2 linked regions of the Homo sapiens genome follow. The protein of the gene in region 2 purifies or fractionates together with the protein of the main gene of each other region. This does not show direct contact. Each region holds a gene or a part of one and is shown on either strand. Other genes may lie near its edges.

Region 1 (3,837 bases), on a different chromosome or scaffold from region 2:
CTCCTGGGCTCAAGCAATCCTCCTACCTCAGCCTCCCAAGTAGCTGGAACTATAGATGCACACGGACATGCTCAGCTAATTTTTAAATTTTTTATAGAGATAGGGTCTCCCTATATTGCCCAGTCTGGTCTTGAAATCAAGTGATCCTCCCACTTTGGCCTCCCAAAGTGCAGGGATTACAGGCGTGATCCAACACGCCAGGCTGAGATTTGCTGTGAAGTTATATTAGCAATTAGTTTCAATCTTCTTCCCTGCAACACATTATTATATACATATATACACATACACATTTATTTATATAAGTATCAACATAAATAAAATTAAAGGTCCCATTATCTATCTCTATTTCATTTTCCCCCTTTTACCGCCATCCTGAGATAATTATTGTTTTTGGTGCACATCCTTCCCATTATTTTCCTGTGCTTATACAGACTTATATACTTTTGCCATTATGTTCAGTGGTGAAAACTGCAATTTCTTTTACACCAACCTAATATATCAAAATACATACCTGTAGATGCAAATGTTTTGATATTAAATATGTGTGAATACATATTTTCATTTTTGCAACATATCTTCCTGTTCTTAACATGTGTATTTACCTGTTAATGTGCTGTATTTATTCTAAAACTGAGCTGTCTGATAGGGTATTAGCTCCATGTGGCTATTTAAATTAACTAAAATTAAACAAAATTAAAATTTCAGTTTCTCAGTCCCACCAGCCATATTTCAAGCACTCAACAGTCACACATGGTTTAGTGGCTACTATTCTGGGACAATGCAGATATAAACATTCCCATTATCATACGAAGTTCTATTGGCCTATGTTGCCCTAAATACTAGTTTGTACTACACTTATTTCAGTGATAACATGTGAACCTCCCCACTACCTCTGATCTCTGCTCCCAAGCTTCTTTCCTTGCAACCACTGCTCCCAGTTTCTTTCTTTCTTTCTTCTTTTTCTGAGACTGGTCTTGCTCTATTGCCCAGGCTGGAGTGCGGTGGTACGATCACGGTTCACGGTAACTTCGAACTCCCAGACTCAAGAGATCCCATTTCAGCCTCCCGAGTAGATGGGACTAGTCACATGCCATGATGCCCGGCTTTTTTTTTTTTTTTTTTTCTTCATTTTTCTGTGAAGACACAGTCTTGCTATGTTGCCAAGGCTGGTCCTGAATGTGGCTTCAAGCAATCCTCCAGCCTCAGCCTCTCAACGTACTGAGATTACGGACATGAACTACAGTGCCTGGCCCCCAGTTTCTCAAGAGGTATTCTATATATATATTATTTAATTAATTCATAACAAACAACTGAAAGCCTACTATATGCCAGGTCCTATATGTCAAGGATGTAGTTGTGAATGAAACAAAAGGTTCTTTCCCTTAAGGATCTTATATTCTAGTGGGGAAAACAGATCATGAATAAGCTAATCTATAATTACATACATACAATCTATAATTAAACTAATATGTACTGACTTAGTTATATGTAAATGCTATAAAGAAAAATATAGGAGGTTAAGGGAAACTAAAGGGAGGAGCCACATATTTGAAGAGAGTGGTCTCTTTGTGGAGGTGACACTTAAGCAGAGTAGCCACATAAGGATCTGGGGGAAGAACATGCCAGGCATGAGCAATGACAACTCCAGAGATCCTGAGGCAGAAACAAGCTCGTGTGTCTGAGGTACAGTAAGGAAGTCTGGGGTGGTCAGAATGCCACCAAGTGGCAGGAGATGAGGTCAGAGTGGTAGGCAGATCCTAAATGTAATGCCTTGTAAGATCCGGATTTTATTCTAAGTGTGATAAAATGTCACTAGAGGATTTTGGGCAGGAGCGATGTGATCTAGTTGACATCTTAAATAAATCACTTTGGCCACAGTATGGAAAACTGATTATTAGAGCAAGAATGGAAGCAAGATGACCAACTGGATGCCTACTTCAGTAATTAAGATGAGAGCCTAAACCAAGGCGGTGGTGGTTGGAGACGGCAAGAGGTGGTCAGATGGGACATATATTTTGTGGCAAGACTGAATGAAACAGATTAATGTTAGGAGTGGAGGGGGAGATAACAAATGGGCAGCACAAGTAAATTCGTTAGGGTGACAGAACTCAATCTTGATTGGCGGTGTTATACTATTCTACACATTTGTCAAAACTCATAGACTTAAACTCCCCAAAGAGTGAATTTTACTGTATATAAATCAAACAATAAATATTTTTAACGAATAGGCAGGGGCCAGGCGTGGTGGCTCACGCCTGTAATCCCAGCACTTTGGGAGGCCAAGGTGGGTGAATCACTTCAGGTCAGGAGGAGTTTGAGACCAGCCTGGCCAACATGGTGAAACCCCGTCTCTACTAAAAATGCAAAAATTAGCCAAGCGAAGTGGTACACGCCTGTAATCCCAGCTACTTGGGAGGCTGAGGCAGGAGAATCACTTGAACCCGGGAGGTGGAAGTTGCAGTGAGCCGAGATCATGGCACTGCACTCTAATCTGGGCAACAGAGCGAAACTCCACCTCAAAAAAAAAAAAAAAAGCCAGGAATGTTCTGAAAGGAATTATACTAATATAATATACAGCAATTATGTACGGAACTACATAGATATAAGAATGAACAAAATAAGGCCAGGCGCAGTGGCTCATGTCTATAATCCCAGCACTTTGGGAGGCCAAGGTGGACGGATCACCTGAGGTCAAAGTTCGAGACCAGCCTGGCCAATATGGTGAAACCTCCTCTCTACTAAAAATACAAAAATTAGCCGGGCGTGGTGGCACACGCCTGTAATCCCAGCTACTCCGGAGGCTGAGGCAGGAGAATCACTTGAATCGGGAAGGCAGAGGTTGCAGTGAGCCAAGATTGTGCCACTGCACTCCGGCCTGGGCAACAAGAGCGAGACTCTGTCTCAAAACAAAACAAAACAAAACAAAACAAAACAGTATCTAATGTTGTAGGTCTCAGTTCCCTCATACATTGATAATTGCCTATGTCACAAAGTTGTTATAAGGAGTAAATAATGCTGAAACAGTACTTCGCATTATTCCTGGCTGAAAACATCCTTTAATAATCATCACTATCAAAGTATTACAGTTTTCCTAACACCATTTCTTTCTACAGAAAAGTCAGGTTTTGTGTGTTTATAATGTGGAAACTGATTCCTATACATACTGTACTGTCCGCTGCTAGTCTGATAGATGGGAGTTGGAACAGACATAGAAGTGACAGCAGCAGAAACTCCAGAATTTTCTCCGTCTCCTTTTCTGCCCCGTGTATCTTCAGAAGATAAGTCTTTCAAAATTTTTCTGTAAAAAAAACCAGAACTCTATTAAACATTGGTAATGTGAATGACTTCACAAAAATAATTTTTTTTTTTTTTTTTTTTTTGAGACAAGATCTTGCTTTGTCACCCAGGCTGGAGTACAGTGGCGCCATCATGGCTCACTGCAACCTCTGCTTCCCTGGCTTAAGAGAGTCTTGTGCCCCAGCCTCCCAAGTAGCTGAGACCAGAAGTGTGAGCCACCACACCCAGCTAATTTTTGTATTTTCAGTAGACACGGGGTTTCACCATGTTGGCCAGGCTGGTCTTGATCTCCTGGCTTCAAGTGATCCACTCATCTCCTCTTCCCAAAGTGCTGGGATTACAGGCATGTGCCACCATGCCCGGCCACAAAAAGAAATTCCTAAAACTTTTTCAATCTCAGGTAAAAGTTATAATAATCGGGCCAGTCATGGTGGCTCACACCTGTAATCCCAGCATTTTGGGAGGCCGAGACCAGCGGATCACAAGGTCAGGAGTTTGAGACCAGGCTGGCCAATATGGTGAAACCCTGTCTCTACTAAA
Region 2 (2,683 bases):
TCTGCTGCTATCATCTTGAAATTCTTAATAAAAAGGGATCCCACATTTACATTTTGCATTGAGACCCACATTTTCTTGAGGTAGGTAGTATTATTGTCCCCTGGTATTATTGTGGCTTTGGACAAATAGCATCCTCAGTGTTCTCACCTGAAAACTATGGTGTAGTTACCCAGTAATTACAAGGTCCTTGGGGGAATTAAATGAGATACTGAATCAGCAGTGATTGGCACATGTAAGTTCTCAGAAATGGTATATATTATTATTATTGTTACCATTTCTCTTTATAAAATAGCTAACCTAATATTACCGTGCTTCTATAAATTCTTATTCTTGCTTGCAAGCACAAGAAACTTTCAGTGCAGTTAAAGGTTTACTGAAAGTACAGAATAAAATCATAAAACTGACCTCTGGCAAAATTAAGATAGGTTTATGGAGGGAAAAGGTCACATATTTACTGTTGGAGAAGTACCTTATTAAAATCTGAGGCTTCTGTAGATCTTAAAACTGAAGAAGTTTTTTGTTCTATAGACAGACTAGAGAAGCATTCAAGACCTTCGAGAAACTTTTCAAATAAATAATATTATCAATAAAAAATAGGCTCAATACAAAATAAAGCAAAACACTGAAGACTACATCAATCCAAATATTTATTCATACTGAATTTTACTAATGTAACAAATGAATTAATGGAGTAAGACCCCTAAAGTATAAAGGCAAAGGAAAATGTAAGAAGAAACTACCGGACACCACAATTCATTTGCAACATCTCAAATTCAGATCATTATGATTTTTGTTACCAGTAAGATACTTTATGCGTTAACATTAGTTGTATCGTAGAAGGTAAATATTTTGTAGACTTTGATGACATGTATAAAATATTATTTTTTCAAAAATAATTTAAAGGTCAAAATAACATATTCTTTTATAATTTGCTTTAGAAGATAGGACAGAAATCTGTCTCTATAGAGGCAAGAATAAGGCCTTGCAAAGAAAATTGGAGTACAGCATTTGTTTTGACAAAAATATATAATTAACGGAAAGTTATTTTATTTCACTTTTACAGAATTAAGAATATAATATATGTTCTTTCCACAATAGTATTTGCCAATCAAAACAAAACTAATGAAAAGCCTCTGGCAATCAGAAGTTCTTCTGATTTATTTTTATATCCATCCTCCAAATTTTAATTTGTTAGGTAAGTACACTCTGGAAAGATAATCTGATGATAGGAAAGTCAAAGCTTGAATTTCTGCCTTCATTTTAGAGTCTGCCATTATTTCCATCTGTCAATAAAAGTAAAATGTACTCATACCAGAGTTCTTAGTTGCATTTCTGTCAATTCAACAAACTAGTAATCTAGAATTGCTTTATTCTCCAAAACCAGGGACAATAGTCTTAAGGGTCAGCCAGAATATTCCAGAGCTGCTACAGCTAAAAATATCTGGAGTGAGAGTACTCTGTATGCTGTCTTCAATAATTAGGGATAGTCTGAAATCTTTATGATTTCTTCTTCCTTTTTTTAATCCCACAAACTATGATACAGCCATCAAGAATGTGTATATAACCATGATAAGGATACAAACAGGCCAGCTCCATTCACTGATCTCATCTATTAGCATTCATATGACTCAATTTCAACAACTATTTACTGCCAAACAACACTTATGTTAGTCGTGTCATATAAAATTTCAAGAGGGATATTTTCAAAATACGATGTGAATAGCCACTACTAAAGTAAAAGACAATTAAACATGCAACACTTGAGTTGTAAAAGGAAACATACTTCTTTTCTCCAAAATGGTTGGCAGGTAACATAAGGTCTCCTCAGGATACTGTCAAGTTTCATTTGGTCCCTTTTTGTCAGTGGAATCAAACTATCTTTAGGTACATTTAATCTGGAAAAAAGTAGGTGAAAAAAATCAGTAAAAAAGTGTTTCTGTAACTTGAATGTCCTGTATTTTGCCTGTATTTATGGTACTACTTCAAGAAACTCAGAAATAAGAAAATTAGTACAGATCTACCTCTTACATCCAGGATTGAAGGGATCTGTCATGTCTTAGACCAGCAAGTTTTCAAGTTCATAGTGGAAGTTTGTGTTTCCACAGTAAGATTCTAAAGTTTTTGTTTTCCTTCATGTCACACTCGTGGGATGATGACAGGATGACAGGAAGACTGATATTGGTTATTAAACAAATGCCAATAGCACTACCATCAGGTATACAGATACCAGGGCAGCTTAATAATGTACATTAAGCCTCTCAGAGCTTCACACTCTTCTGGCAGTGAGCTCCAATATGCATGGCCAACGGCTGAGATTCACTGAGGGACTTTAGGTTCCATTGAGTATTTAATTCTTCATAATTCATTTGAAGATTCTGGGCCATGGAAGTTAGTGTCTCACTTTTATCATTTTACACACACACACACACACTTTTATCACTTTACACACACACAAACACATTCTTACCTATCTAGTTTTAAATTTGAAAAACGTGGAATATAACTTTATCATGGTATGTGTTTTAAAAATAGAACATGAGAGGTCCTGGATTTATGGTGTGGACTACCTTTTGAAGTCACAAATCCTAGATTTCCCAGGAGAGTCTTTTTCAATGTGTCCATAATTATGACCATTTGCCAGGGGCAGTTCTTGGATAGGGGTGACAATTTGATTGAAAGGGAG

What was found.
Region 1: the proteins of SPO11 (region 2) and ATF1 purify together in Homo sapiens (co-immunoprecipitation; one large-scale study listed by IntAct). This does not show direct contact.

Annotation. Positions count from the first base shown.
Region 1 is NC_000012.12:50,808,917-50,812,753, reverse strand, and holds part of ATF1 (cyclic AMP-dependent transcription factor ATF-1), read right to left. Parts: intron 3,299-3,837; coding exon 3,165-3,298; intron 1,134-3,164; exon of another isoform or gene 891-1,133; intron 1-890.
Region 2 is NC_000020.11:57,341,941-57,344,623, reverse strand, and holds the end of SPO11 (meiotic recombination protein SPO11), read right to left. Parts: intron 1,896-2,683; coding exon 1,784-1,895; exon of another isoform or gene 1,284-1,783; coding exon 1,164-1,283; 3' UTR 631-1,163; downstream 1-630. UniProt on the Homo sapiens protein: Component of a topoisomerase 6 complex specifically required for meiotic recombination. Together with TOP6BL, mediates DNA cleavage that forms the double-strand breaks (DSB) that initiate meiotic recombination.